Linked DNA regions of Homo sapiens. The protein of the gene in region 1 purifies or fractionates together with the protein of each later gene. This does not show direct contact. Each region holds a gene or a part of one and is shown in the gene's direction. Other genes may lie near its edges.

What was found.
Region 2: the proteins of KCNAB1 (region 1) and SLC35F6 purify together in Homo sapiens (co-immunoprecipitation; one large-scale study listed by IntAct). This does not show direct contact.
Region 3: the proteins of KCNAB1 (region 1) and EPHX4 purify together in Homo sapiens (co-immunoprecipitation; one large-scale study listed by IntAct). This does not show direct contact.
Region 4: the proteins of KCNAB1 (region 1) and ATIC fractionate together in Homo sapiens (co-fractionation; one large-scale study listed by BioGRID). This does not show direct contact.

What each region holds. Positions count from the first base shown.
Region 1 is NC_000003.12:156,126,753-156,130,942, forward strand, and holds part of KCNAB1 (voltage-gated potassium channel subunit beta-1), read left to right. Parts: intron 1-4,190. UniProt on the Homo sapiens protein: Regulatory subunit of the voltage-gated potassium (Kv) Shaker channels composed of pore-forming and potassium-conducting alpha subunits and of regulatory beta subunits.
Region 2 is NC_000002.12:26,767,239-26,770,783, forward strand, and holds part of SLC35F6 (solute carrier family 35 member F6 precursor), read left to right. Parts: intron 1-3,545. UniProt on the Homo sapiens protein: Involved in the maintenance of mitochondrial membrane potential in pancreatic ductal adenocarcinoma (PDAC) cells. Promotes pancreatic ductal adenocarcinoma (PDAC) cell growth. May play a role as a nucleotide-sugar transporter.
Region 3 is NC_000001.11:92,036,440-92,039,984, forward strand, and holds part of EPHX4 (epoxide hydrolase 4), read left to right. Parts: intron 1-3,545.
Region 4 is NC_000002.12:215,332,514-215,336,058, forward strand, and holds part of ATIC (bifunctional purine biosynthesis protein ATIC), read left to right. Parts: intron 1-836; coding exon 837-944; intron 945-2,405; coding exon 2,406-2,491; intron 2,492-3,521; coding exon 3,522-3,545. UniProt on the Homo sapiens protein: Bifunctional enzyme that catalyzes the last two steps of purine biosynthesis.

The sequences.
Region 1 (4,190 bases):
ATGTGATTTAGTCTTCTCAGCTATAAAAAGTGGGTAATGATGGCAGTAATACCTTAGGGTTGTTACGGGAGCTCAAGTGACTTAAGTAAGTATAGCTCACAGAACAGCAGTGGGCACATATAGTAGTAAATATGATATTATACAAAGGTCTTAGCATCATTCCTGACGCATGATCTATGCCCTTGCTATTATCATGAGATTGTTATTGGAGATGCCAAAAGTAGGGATGCCTCTCTTTTCTGGAGTGTACTCACACTGATACTGTAAATGGGCATAAAAATATCTAGCTCATAAGACTGCTATAAGGATTCCATGAAATGATGTAAATCATCTGGTGTAGATTAGACACTCAATCAATTTTGGTGCTCACCTCTGCCACTTTCCTCTTTTTCCACATTCCTGGAACATAGTGGACAGCATCAGTAAGATGGTATCAGGGATGGAGTATGGAATGGTGGAAGTGAGCTACAATGGAATAACTCTAAATTATTCAACCAATATTTTTTTTCCTAGAAAAAGCTATTAATTCATTTTTTGTTGTTGAAGAGAAAGCTCTTCCTTTTCTAAAATATGATATCTATTTCTTAGAGCAGGCACATTCTCCCTAAGGCTGTAATTCTTGTCATGTTTGCATGAGCAGTCACATAGAAGTATTATTTTCAGAGATATTGGAATATGAGGACATTTTTATGTAGTTTACTGTGATTTTAGTTATATGCTAGAAAGATTGCCTCCTAGCTCATTGTTCTGTTGTTTTGCATATTAGAGAAAATGTTGGACCACTGAATGATTGGGCTAGGAGTGGGAGAGTGAACCTCAACAGGACAGGATTTAGGTAGCCAGAGAAAGTTACAGCATTCTAGTAGCAGCCTCTGGGGAGGGTTAGGGTTGCCATGGCCACTAAAGATGGTGATGATGTCCTTTGACTTGGCCATGAAGCTGCCATTGTCCTGTGTAGCTGCACCACTGGGGTGGTGAGTTGGAAGTAGACATCCCTGGACGGGCACATCCACTCCATGGGAGTAGCCAAATGCACAGGGACTTGGTTCAGTCTGCACCCCTGTGACTGCTTTTTTGGTTATCTTGACAAAACTGAGCCAGTTTCTCAGTTTTAGATTCCTCTTCATTTGGGGTGTGTGTGTGTGTGTGTGTGTGTGTGTGTGTGTGCACGTGCGTGCGCACCTGGTTTCTTCTGAATAACTGTGGACACCTGGAAGGCAGTGCCTCTATCTCAGTCTTCTGACTTGCCCAGAGGGTTCTTTCCTAACTGGACGTTGGTAAATTAGATAGAGCATCAGCTCTGGCTCCTCTTTCTGAGATCTCTCTGCCGCTACAGGGAATGGGCTCATGTAACAGTAGGAAAATTGGTTGAGGGGCCAGGAGACATGATTCAAATCCCATTTTGCAGTATGGTCATAAGTAAGGTTTTTAAAGTTCTCCAGAAATCAGTGCTCCTCTGTAAAATAATGAGACTAGACGAGATGATCCCTTGAGCTTTGTCCAGCTTTGAGCCTGTGGAGTATAATGACATAAACCTGACCAAAGGGGCACACTGTGTTGTTTATAGAGACAGTGCAACTGAAGTATCTCTGAAAGAAAAAGGGGATGAGGTGATACTTTGTTTTGAAGTTGTAGGAGAAGGAGAAAAATTCTCTTTGATTTTCAAAGTGTGTTATTTTAGTGATTGGTTGATTACTGACAGATATGTTTAATTTTTTAAAAAGTGTTCTTTAGTAGAAGGAGACAGAGTAACACAAATACCTACAATTTGTAGTATCCTTGTTTATAAAATGTCTTGTCGTGCATTATCTCATTTGCCTTCACATGACATAGAGCAGGTGTTCTCCTACTTTCCTGTGAGGGAACGTGCCTCATAAAGGCGATGTGCCTGATCATCTAGGCCCAGATCCCAGGTCTCCTGGTTCCTTGTCCAGGCTTCTTTACATGCTTTCAATGTTTCCCAAACTATGGCACTCTAATTGTGCCAAAGATAATTTTGGGGGGCATGTGGAAATTAAATCTTTCAATGGGTTGATAATTTATTTTCATGAATATTAGGAAGAAATATATAACATACACCTAAAATCTATAAATTCATGGCTATGAGAGCAGGGCGCAAGGGTAAGTTTTAAAATAAATGAGTCAATTGAGAGGAAAACATTCACTAACTGTAAGTAGTGGTGGAATTGAGATCTGACAAAAATCCTCAAGGTGATACACAAAGGACTATTTCTTTCATCTCCTTCATAATTATCAAGCATTTATAAAGCATCATGCCTTCTTCCCGGGGCTTTTATAGTCGTTCTGTTTAATTCATACAACAACCTCATAGTCTTGTTACAACCCATATCCTTCAGTGAAGGAGAGTGTGGTTCTGCCTATTCATTTTTTGTCAGTCGTTGATTTTTTTTTTCTTCTTTTCCCATTAAGGGGATGAAATATTCCCTGAGCTACCTCCCTGCTGAATATGCTTAAGTATGTTCCAGGTTATCTTTTTGAGCCTTCGTTATTCTACTCCATATCGAAGGTCAACCTTTCTAGTTCTGTCTCTATGTACCGAATACTCTGCTTCTCTGGGGTGTGGTGATATCATACCATGAGTTTAAAATTTAGCCTTAGCTATACAGCTTAGCTTATTAAAGTTTCACGTTTACTTTTCAGGTTGTTGTGCAGTTGTGGTATTAGCCAGTTAGAGATGTTGTGCCTCTTGCCTCCTCTATAAGTCACCACAGATATATAAACTGGGGACACATTAATATAAGCTCTGATATCAGGCTGACTTAGGTCTAAATTCAACCCCTTACAATCTGTGTGACCTGGAACCTCAGTCTTCTCACCAGTAAAATCAGAATAACAGGGTTACATATTCATAGAGTTGAGAAAATTAAATGAGATAATATCCATAAAAGTTTTAGCACAATGCTGAGTGCATAGGAAGGGGCCTTCAGCAAAAGCCATAATTACTATTCCCCTTTGAAGTGCCATCAGGCCATCTGTTATTTTGCCTCCCTGATCTTCCTTTAGCTAGGAGTCTCTCTATGAGCCCCTCAAGCTTGGGAAAATTCTCCAAGCCTTAGCAAATGGTCTTGACATGCTGCTTCCCTCCTCGTTTAACTTAGAAACTTGTTCTAAGATTTTCATTCATACCCTGATTTAAAATCTTTTCTGATTAACATGGACCAAACGCCTTGTCTGTCTCACACTTCCTCTCTCCATGCACAGTGGATCCATCTCTTGACTCTGGAATAAAAAGGCCTAGGTTTAAATCCTAGCTCTGTTTCTGGCTGGTTGTGTGGATTTTAGCAAAACACCTCTCCTCTCCAAGCCTTGATTTTGTCATCTATATGGTGGAAATAAAAACATCTGTGTTATCCATCTTCTAGGATTTTAAAGATTAGATCCAAAGTATATGTGAAAATGCTCTGTATGTTATAAACCACTATCTATGTGTTCGCTATTATTTTTATTACCTTCTGCACTGGACATGGGCTCTACGTCAGCTTAGAACATGGCTTAAGAGCATGGTTACCCCAATCTGTTTTTCTAGTAAAAATAGGTGTAGATGTAGCCTTCATTCCTTCATTCCTTGACCTTGAACAAGCCTTCCTGGGTGAGCTGACCAAAGTCTATGACATCTGCCTTCTTTTCCTAATATCAACAACTGTTTATTGAATATTTATTATATAGCTAGCACATTCCTTAGATATTCCATTGATTCCTTCCCAATGATCCATGTGCATGTGATGCCTATTTTTATGATCTTCACTTTGTGGAAGGAAATTGAGCCTTAAAAATGATCCTGCCCAATGTTAGCCAGTTAAGCATGTGATAAAGCCAGTACTTGAATCTGGAGACTCAGGCTGCAGACTGCAGATGCACATCTCAACTCAACAGAATGGCTCCCTGCCCTAGTTTGGGTTGATTATTGATCACTACAAAGATGTCATTTTAGTAATTTCACTTTTCACCTTCACTTTCCACCACACTATAAGGTTCTGTAACTCGGGATGTGGCAGTCATGTCTTCCCCTCCCATTTGAAGTCTTTGCTTCTTGTCCTGCACCTGTCTATCAAAAGGCTGGGAGGCTGGAATGTTGGGAAGTCACTTAGGTGGATAGCAAAGGGTTGTGTCATAGGATGAACTATGGATTTTTATGTTTCCTCAGGCTTTTCTCCCACAGAAACTGTTTC
Region 2 (3,545 bases), on another chromosome or scaffold:
CAGCCTTTGATGTGCCTCTCTCCAGGACTGGGCTGCCAGCCTCTCAGCCAGCCCAGAGACACTGCTGACAGGGTCCTCCCGCTGGAGTCCAGGCCACTCAAGGTTCAGACTGACAGCCTGTGGTTGTCTCTGGCAGTTTCTTGGCCTGTGACAAGAGTGATGTTTCCCTTCCCAGGTTCTTGGGAGGATGAAAGGCAGTGGATGAGGAAGCACATCTGAGCACGTGCTGCCTGCTGTGCTGGGGCGGCAGGTCAGCTTTCCTCTCTGCGGCCCCATCCCTGGGTCCTGGCAGGGGGCCCCTCCCTGTGAAGTGGCTTCTTCTTTCCCTGGCTGTTTTCTCAAAACCTCCTCACTAGCACCTTCTGTCGATCATCTTCTTTAGGCCAAGCCATTTCTGTCTACGTGAGCCAGTGCCCCATCCACAGGTACTCATTTCAGAACCCCAGTCTCCTGAATCCAACTGAGGTTCTACATATGAAGAGCCGGGGTCAGCTGGGCACTGTGGCTCCAGCTTGTAATCCCAGACTGGAGGCTGAGGTGGGATGATCATTTGAGCCCAGGAGTTCAAGATCAGCCTGGACAACATAGGGAGACCTCGTTCTCTACAAATAATAATAATAAATAATTAATTAATAGAGCCAGGGTCAAGTAGATGCTCACTAAGTAAGGCTCAGCTCCCCTCCTAAGTTCTGCAGGCTGTAGGGCCCTCCCAGCCAGGCAGGGATATGAGCCTGACTTCCTTTCATGCCCAGGCCAGGGACCCTGCCAAGAAGGTGGCAGGAAGCCTGGAAACCACTAGGCCTCTACTAGAGAAGAGGTGTTTGCTCTTCTTCTGTGTCCTTTCTGTGCCAGCTCCAATGTTTGCCCTTGGCAGCTGCCCCACCACCCTTGGGTTCCATGAACTGGCATGGGATAATTGCTTCAAAGGGGTTGTTGGGCCAGCTTGTGGAAGCCTTAACTCAGGAGGACAGTGTAGTAGAGTGGGAAGTTCATGAGGCTTGGGACCTGAGGAATAGATGAGCCACTGGACCTCTGTGAGCCTCAGTTTTCTCATCTGTAAAATGGACTTGGTGATCCCTGCCGTACCTTCTTCCTGGACACTGAAGATCTACTGAGGAAGGTTTCCTTTTTTTTTTTTTTTTGAGACGGAGTCTGGCTCTGTCATCCAGGCTGGAGTGCAGTGGTGTGATCTCAGCTCACTGCAAGCTCCGCCTCCCGGGTGAACGCATTCTCATGCCTCAGCCTCCTGAGTAACTGGGACTACAGGTGCCTGCCACCATGCCCGGATAATTTTTTTGTATTTTTTTAGTAGAGACAGGGTTTCATTGTGTTAGCCAGGATGGTCTCGATCTCCTGACCTCGCCCATCTCGGCCTCCCAAAGTGCTGGGATTACAGGCATGAGCCACTGTGCCCAGCCTTTTTTTTTTTTTTTTTTAAGACACGGTCTCTCTCTGTTGCCCAGGCTGGAGTGCAATGGTGCCATCTAGGCTCACTGCAACCTTGAGCCATCCTCCCACCTCAGCCTCCCAAGTAGATGGGACCACAGACACCCGCCACCGTGCCCACCTAATTTTTGTATTTTTTGTAGAGACAGCGTCTTGCCATGTTTCCTAGGCTGGTCTCAAACTCCTGGGCTCAAGCAATCCACCTGCCTCAGCCTCCCAAAGTGTTGGGATTACAGGCATGCACCACCACACCCAGCTTAAGGAAAGTTTTCCATTCCATGGAGATGAGAGGGCTCACCATTGTCACCTCAGGAGCCAGGGCCACCTGCTGTGGCACCCCAGAGAGTGGAGAAGCCTTGGCCCTTCTGTAGGTCCCAGGCAGGAGAAAGAAGGGGACTCACTGGGCTTGACAAGCTGGGGACACAAGAGGAAGTGGCAGAGATTCTGTGGGAATGGCCACAGCTAATCTGCCCAAGCCAGCCCCATCGCCACTTCCTCAGTCTGTTTTCGCCACCCCCGTTCACGTGGACGTGCACACCTCCCAGAATGCTGAGCTTTGAGTTTGGGCCTGGCCATGCTAGGGAGTGACTCACCACCCAGCACGGAGAGCCTACTCCCCAGCCTGCCCGCCAAAAGGAGCGGCCTCAGCTTGTCCCCGCTAGGACCCTTCGGGCCTCCTGCCCTGGAGGTCATCTCCCCTAGAATACAGTGTCTGTGGAGAAGACAGGCCCACCTACTGGGCTGCCCCTCTCCTCCCACCAGCTAGGGGAGCAAGAACTCAGAGGAGAGCTTCAGAGCATCAGGGAGGGGGCGCATGACTGCCTGCTGAGCTTCCAGTGTACTGGCCCTGTTTCAACATCTGAGGAGCCGTGAGCCCCTCGAGCCCTCTCTGGCCCCTGGGTTCCTGTCTGTCAAATAAGGAGTTCAGCTGATGGCTGAGTTTCTTCTGTTTCAGCATTTTGGCTCTGTGAACTGCAGGGACAATAGCCTGAGGTCCCTCCAGCCACCTCTGCCTCAGCCAGCAGGACAGGTTCCAGACGTTTTTCCAGTAGCTTTCAGGCTGAAGGGGAGCTGGGGCCACGCTGAACCCAAGGGGGAGATGGCTTCTGCTCAGTGAAGGGAAAGGAGAAGGGGCAGAAAATGAGTTTTGCTGAATACCTGCCATGTGCCAGGTCATGTATATATCCTTATATCATGTATTGCTTCTGACAGTTTGTCAGTGTTGGTATGATTACCCTGTAACTTGTCCAGCCTGTGGGACTCAAAACTCTGGGTTTTCTCTGTATTCTGCCTTTTCTGAGTATAAATTCAAGCAAGGTTTAACCCTGGATCTGCCTTAAGCCTCAGAGTCCCCATCTAAAATGAGGATCCTTGTTGTAAGGCTTAACGGGACAGTCCCCATGAAGTGTCCTATGAATTGTGCATTTAAGGAAACATGGGCTGGGTGCAGTGGCTCACACCTGTAATCCCAGCACTTCGGGAGGCTGAGGCAGGTCAATCTCTTGAGGCCAGGAGTTCGAGACTAGCCTGGGCAGCATAAACAAGGCTGCATCTTTGCAAAAAATACAAAAATTAGCCGGGCATGGTGGCCCATGCCTGTAGTCCCAGCTACTCAGGAGGCTGAGGTGAGAGGATCATATGAGCCTTGGGAGGCTGAGGCTGTAGTGAGCCGTGATTGTGCCACTGCACTCCAGCCTCAGTGACAGAGTAATACCCTGTCTGAAAAACAAAACAAAAAAACAAACGTTGTTGGCCGGACGCAGAGGCTTATACCTGTAATCCGATCACTTTGGGAGATTGATACGGGTGGATCACTTGAGGTCAGGAGTTCGAGACCATCCTGGCCAACATGGTGAAACTCCGTCTCTACAAAAAATATAAAAATTAGCTGGGCATGGTGGTGGGTGCCCGTAATCCCAGCTACTTGGGAGGTTAAGGCAGGAGAATCACTTGAACCTGGAAAGCAGAGGTTGCAGTGAGCCAAGATCGCGCTGCTACACTCCAGCCTGGGTGACAGAGGGAGGCTCCGTTTCAAAAAAAAAAACAAGAACAAAAACAAAAGACAACAAACAACAAACGTTGTGAAGAACTGACAGCAA
Region 3 (3,545 bases), on another chromosome or scaffold:
GGGTCCAGCACTGGTCCCTGGATATCATTCCCATTTGCCCCCGCAAAGTCAAGTCTTGGATGTATCCAAAAGGGATTTGGTCATTGTGAGGAATAGTTTAGTTTTTGGGAAGCTCCTAGAAATATTTTCACTCTGAAAAGCCATAGATTAAGAAATATGTGAAGATCATAGACAGGCATGAGTCTCTTCTGTTCACTAAATCTGTCATTTGTTACTCCAGAAAGAACATTGGTAGAATTTAAAACAGCAACAACTACAAACGCAGATAGCTCAGCTACTCAGATAGATCATATTGAATTCATTGAACTTTGCTGATCATTAATCTGAAAGCTACCTGGTTGTTTAGGGAGCATCTGAAAATACTACATGGAGATTGTTGGTAATCAGATATCTCTGGAGTCATACTCTAAACCAAGACCCCTGTTGATGCTCACTCTGTCTTTCCTTTCAATCAATCAAATTGCCACTGTTACCCATTATGAGGTCTAGTCAATCTCATTGAGGTGCTAGTGGAAACAAACAACAGGAAAAAAAAAAGGTCTTAGAATTTAGGACAAAACTCTAGGGTTTAAGTTTTAAGACAAAACTCTTTTTTATTTTTTTCATTTTAAAGGCCAAAAAAACTTCATGCATGGCATTTCAAACCAATTTCAATTTACATTACAAATGTAAATGTTATTCCTCTAGCAATTAAGTTTTGCTTAAATACACATGAAAGTGTATGCTTGATTGTAGATTAAGTAGGTAACAAATATTTGATACAGTGAAAACAAAAAAAAATGAATTGATAATGTGTGTGAAAGTGCTTTGTAAACAGAAAAGCACCATGCAAATGTAACATATTATCGCATTTATCATCATTGCCTGAGAATAGCTGACGAGAAATGGTGATATTTCATGTATACAATTAGCTGTTACACAGCAACAATAAAATCCCGGGTCTTCTTAAAATCTAAAGGAAATATTAAACAAGATACACATCTACAGGACCTTTGACTAAATTAACCCCAAGTAAGGCTGTTTGTCAAAGGATGATCTTTCTCCCACTCTCTCTCTCCACTTCAATTTGCATCTCCTTTAAAAATATTTTGAGCTGAGGCAGGCAATTTCTTTGAGTCGTCTTCGTCTCCAGCTATATGGAATGCATGCGTCATCACTCAAGTGCTAAGGCGAGTGAGGGGCCTTCATCATACAGCTGAGCACAGAAGCTGACAACTGTGGCATTTCTCTGTGGTAAAGAGGAGGAGGATAGTCTACATCTGAAAGTGTAACCTGGTAAAACCAGGAGCCCTCCTAGGTGAAGAGCAATCACGGCGAAAGAGATTGGTTATTTTTCCTGAGTGTCCTCTGCTATTACCTAAAGCTACCAGAAAAAAGGCAATGTGGATGAAAATAGTTTTGCTTATTTATAATCTTTTTAGGGTTACTGCTTTTGTAATGTGTTTCATTCCTGTATCAAGGAGATTGTTTTCGCTTTATTCATGTAAATGATATGTCCATCAGTCTAATACTGGGGTGACTTCTTTTTCAGTTTAGGGCTAATGTGTACATCAAATGTGTTTTATTTATGAACTTCAGGAAGATGACAGTTAAAAATTATTCCTTAGTAATTTATTAAAAATATGCAGTTGCCCTATTTCTTAGAATTGTTTAGGATATTGTTTGGCTTCACTCATTGTTAAAAGCAGTAGCTGGATTTATTTTTAAGGCAATTTAAATTATTTCTAATATGACATGGAAGCATCATGTTTGCATAATCTCTAATCCAATTCTAAATGTAAAATGTTGCAGGATTATATAAAGTCAAATTTCTACCTTGAAATCTCTAATTAAATCCTAAATGAAGACACGGACCCTTAAGGTATTGAAACAACGTGCAGTTCAACAGAAATTGAATACAAATTCCCCAATAGGAATTTGGGACCGTTAGCTGTCATTGTCTCAAGGTTTGAACTGGGACAAAAGTCCTACTGCACAACTGGTACTTCTAGCACTATCATTATTCAGTGTTTTTATTCATTTGTTGTTTCATTTATTTGACAAATCTTTATTAAGCACCTACAGGGGCTAGATATTCTCATAGACGACCCAGGAAACGATCTCGTGGAAGAGCCAGGTATCAAAAGTGAGGTGTGCCCCAGCCCTGAAGAGTGCACATACAAGTGCAAAAGCGTGGAAGGGGCCCACGCACCCCAGCTGTAATGGAGAGAGCTGGGAAGTCTCCTAGAAAAGGAGACGCCTAATGTGATAATGAGTTAATTGAGGGGTGAGAGTCAGGGATTATGGGGTAATAGGGGAATGGTGGGGAGTGATGGTATTTCAGACAAAGGAAACCATATGAAGAAAGTCATAAAAGCAAAAACCAATATCTCTATTTGTTCACCTATTTCAACCTAGTGCTGCAGAGGCAGTATAACATGGACTCTGGGGCCAGACTCCCTGGGCTGGAATCCTGGCTCTGCTGTTTGCTGACTCTGTGACCTTTGGTACTTCAATTAACCTTGCTTTCCCTCCATTTCTTCATCTGTTAAGTGAAGATAATAATAATATCTACTTCATAGTACTGTTTTGAAGATCAATATTACCATACAAGAAGCACTTAGAATTGGGCCTGGTATGTAGTAAGAATGGTATAGATGTTAGTTCTTTTTGTTATAAAGCAAATGACAGAGTGCAAAGTAATCTGGCTGGAAGATTGGGCAATAGTCAAATCTTTCAGATTTTTTTCTGCTAGAATAATAAGCTAGAACTTCATGTTATGGGTAATAGGGAGTCAAGAAAGGATTTTCAGCAACGAAATGACATGAGTTTGTGTCTTTGCTACATCACTGGTTTTGTAGAAGATAGAGCAGAGGGGAATGAAAGCGACACACTTAGACCAAGCAATAGGCTGCTGCCTAAATGGAGGCCTGAATTAAGGTAATGATAGAATGGTAGACAAGAGTGTTTAAATAAATATTTAAGAGGTTAAATGAACAGAACTTTATTGATTGGGTAGGATGGATTATAAAGAGGGAAGAATTAGGCTTCAGTTATGAAGACATAAAAAATCAATTCAAAATTTTAAGTAAGGCAAATCAGAAAAAATACAATCACATGTGTTGACAGATGAGTATCTTTAAGGAAACAAGCTACTTTATTTGTTACAATCCACAGACAAGATTAACAACATTACTACAGTCTAGCCAAAAAAGACACGTTTATTTAATTAATTTATTTATTTATTTATTTGAGACAGAGTTTCCCTCTTGCTGCCCAGGCTGGAGTGCGGTGACTCGATCTCGGCTCACTGCAACCTCCATCTCCCGGGTTCAAGCGATTCTCCTGCCTCAGCCTCCCTAGAAGCTGGGATTACAGGTGTCCGCCACCACGCCTGGCTAATTTTTGTATTTTTAGTAGAGACGTGGTTTCACCATGTTGGCCAGGCTGGTCTCAAATTCCTAACCTCAAGCCATCCGCCCACTTTGGCCTTCCAAAGTGCTAGGATTACAGGCGTGAGCCACTGCGCCCAGCCAGAAGACATGTTTATTAGCATTTTCTTTTTT
Region 4 (3,545 bases), on another chromosome or scaffold:
CTCTGTGCTCTGGAAAGCTCCAGAATTGTTCGAAAGGCATTTCTTCTTAAATTTTTTTGAATATTAACAAGTTCTAATGTGAATATAGACATGCTATGAAATCTGAAAGTCATCTGTTGATAACAGTATCAATGTAATAATATAAAATCTGATACACACACACACACAGAATTGTGTAATATTGTCAGGAAAATGAGGCAGGAATTTGTTTGTGGGGTGGAACCATAAAAGTTTAGAAAATAAAAGTGAAATGTCCTAATGCAATAGACTAAGTCTTGTGCCACATCTTTGAAAATGTAATGGAGTAAACATAAAGAAGTTCTTCTTTGGACTCTTTATCTGAAACTTCTTATAGTCGTTGTATGAGATACTTTGCTTCTGTGTTTAAATCATGAACTCCGCAATTGAGTTGTCTGTACACCACATCTTGCTGACAGTCCTCCAGCACATGATTTGTTCTCAGGTGTTTATTGGGTGTTAAAGTGATGTGAGTGGGGAAGAAATAAATGATGTGTGATATCAAAGTGATATCAAGCAGAACAGAGAGAAAGAGTGAGTCAGTAATGAAGTAAACGAGCTTCACCTACACGCTGGGTACTGTCAGGCTTCAGTGGCTCTGTGGTTTTGGAGGGCAGAGAGGAGATTTCCCTCACACTGCTCCCACAACCATATTTTTAGTGTATAATTATCTGGCTAAATAGATTTCTGTTTAATTTAGCACAGGCACTAGAAAATGTGCTGCGTAGACTGGGTGTTAAGAAAACTGTCTTGATTTAGGAGTTGACAGGTAGTAACTTTAGCTTTCTTTGTTTATGATTTTACTATTTTCTAACCAGGTGCTGCTGTTGGAATTCCACTCAGTGAAGATGAGGCCAAAGTCTGCATGGTTTATGATCTCTATAAAACCCTCACACCCATCTCAGCGGCATATGCAAGAGCAAGAGGTCAGACTCATAGGGCTTTTTGATTTGGGGGAGAAAGAAAAAGCAATATTTTATCCTAAATAGAATAAAGAGGATAGAATAAAGAAAAAATATATAGATATTCTGTATAATATATAGATGAAATTAAGGACTTCTATCTCTATGTAAATATACAGTTATTCTATATAATATAGTTTGATTAAAGTAAAATACCCTTTGTTTCATTATAGGATTTCCTATTTAATTTGTTTTATTAATATTTGAGATTGATTCTGTGAGTACCTCAAAATACATTTCTTTATAAAAGTGTATGTTAGTATTTTAGGCCGGGCGCAATGTCTCACGCCTGTAGTACCAGGACTTTGGGAGGCTGAGGCGGGCAGATCACGAGGTCAGGAGATCGAGACCATCCTGGCTAACACGGTGAAACCCCGTCTCTACTAAAAATACAAAAAATTAGCTGGGCGTGGTGGGGGGTACCTGTAGTCCCAGGTACTCAGGAGGCTGAGGCAGGAGAATGGTGTGAACCCGGCAGGTGGAACTTGCAGTGAGCCAAGATAGCGCCAGTGCACTCCAGCCTGGGTGACAGAGCGATACTCCGTCTCAAAAAAAAAAAAGTATTTGTTAGTATTTTAGTGTAATAAATGGAAACACAATTGGAATTTGGTCAATGTAATTTTGCTAATTTAGGCTATTGAATGCATTTGTTATTGTTTAATATGTGACCAAAATTGAAATTACAAAAAGCTATTCTTTTTTTTTTTTTTTTTTTTTTGAGACAGCTTCTTGCTCTGTTGCCCAGGCTGGAGTGCAGTGGCGCCATCTCAGCTCACTGCAACCTCCACCTCCTGGGTTCAAGCGATTCTCCTGCCTCAGCGTCCTGAGTAGCTGGGATTACAGGTGCGTGCCACCACACCTGGCTAATTTTTTTGTATTTTTAGTAGAGACATGGTTTCACCATGTTGGCCAGGCTGGTCTTGAGCTCCTGACCTCAAGTGATTCACCTGCCTCAGCCTCCCAGAGGGCTGGGATTACAGGCGTGATTTATGGCTCTTCTAACTTTACTACATTTGGTTAGAGTCATGTTTTATCAGAGACATTTACTTGTTGAATTTAATAACCCATGAATATCCCTTTAGTATTTCTGAAAGTTCTTGAGAAACTATTACCATAGTTTATCATCTACAGCAGTGGTCAGCAACTTCAGCTGAATCCAGCCTGCCACCCTGTTTTTGTGAATATAGTATATATAAATTGGTCCTTCACAGAAAAAGTTTTCTGAGTGTCACTCTAGAGGGTAAAATTAAAGAATACTTTCTTACTGGTTACTTCAGTTAAATGACTTATTGATCTGTTAAAATCTTATGTAAACAGTAAGATTAGCTTTAGAGTAATGAATTTTATATGACAGTGGAGAATTTTATTACTTTTTCTGTATCAGGATACTTTGTGATAAATACCTCATTTTAATTTTATTTACAGGGGCTGATAGGATGTCTTCATTTGGTGATTTTGTTGCATTGTCCGATGTTTGTGATGTACCAACTGCAAAAATTATTTCCAGAGAAGTTAGTGGACATTCATGTATCTTAATCTGTGTGTTGAATAAAGCTTTATTTGTTCATAATGTTAATTGAAACCATAACCTATAATATTTATATTTATAATATCTTTTAATTAGCTAAGTTTATCATTTAATGTTCATATTTTAAATAGAACATTAATCTTAAATTGTTAATTTTGAAATGTAGTGAATTATTGTTTCAGATGGATATTTGGCTGTTATGATGTTTTTTACTTATATATTTATTTTAAATTCTTTGTTGTCTTCATGCCAAAGTTACTGTTTCTGAAGAGCAGAAGTTGTAATTTTAGGTGGTGATGCGATATAATCCATCTTACTGCATAGTGGGTAAAAAACAGAAACTACATTAATAAACTTACCCCATCAGTTGAATACCAAACAGGTATTCCAGACAGGTGGGGGTACTGTTGGTAGTAGGAAGACAGGAAGAAAAGAGAAAAAGATTAAATAGCTCAGAAAGGGGAAAAAAATAAGCAGAGGTGAAGGCTGAAGGAGCATGTGGCTTGGCACTATTTTGTTGCTTTAGGATTCTTTCCATGGCCACTGCCATCCCTGGGTTACAGGTTACAGGAGGGCTGTGACATTTGTATCTTTCGTCATGTCAAATCTCTGATTTAATCTGGTCTTGCTGTTAAGGAAAACGCCTTGCCGGAAGAGGTCATTTAACCATGTACTAGGAGAGTCAGGACTAGAATGTGCTCTTGCTCATTCAAAACACTCCCTGAAGAAATATTTCCTCCTGAGGTACATGTGTTAAGAGCAAATCAGTCATATTTTCTTAGTTTAAACTGAAACGAACAAAAACTTGGAGAGGACAGAAAGTTAGGATCTGCTATACAGAAAGCTGTATTCTAATAGATTTCTCTTTTCAAGTATAGCGTTAGCATTGTTTGTTGGAGGCAGAAACCAGAATATGCTGCCACATTATTTAAGACTGATAATTGCTGCTAGATTTTTTTAAGAGGTGTTCTCTGATTTTTAAAAATAGAAATTAAAATTTAATATTTTTGCAGGTATCTGATGGTATAATTGCCCCA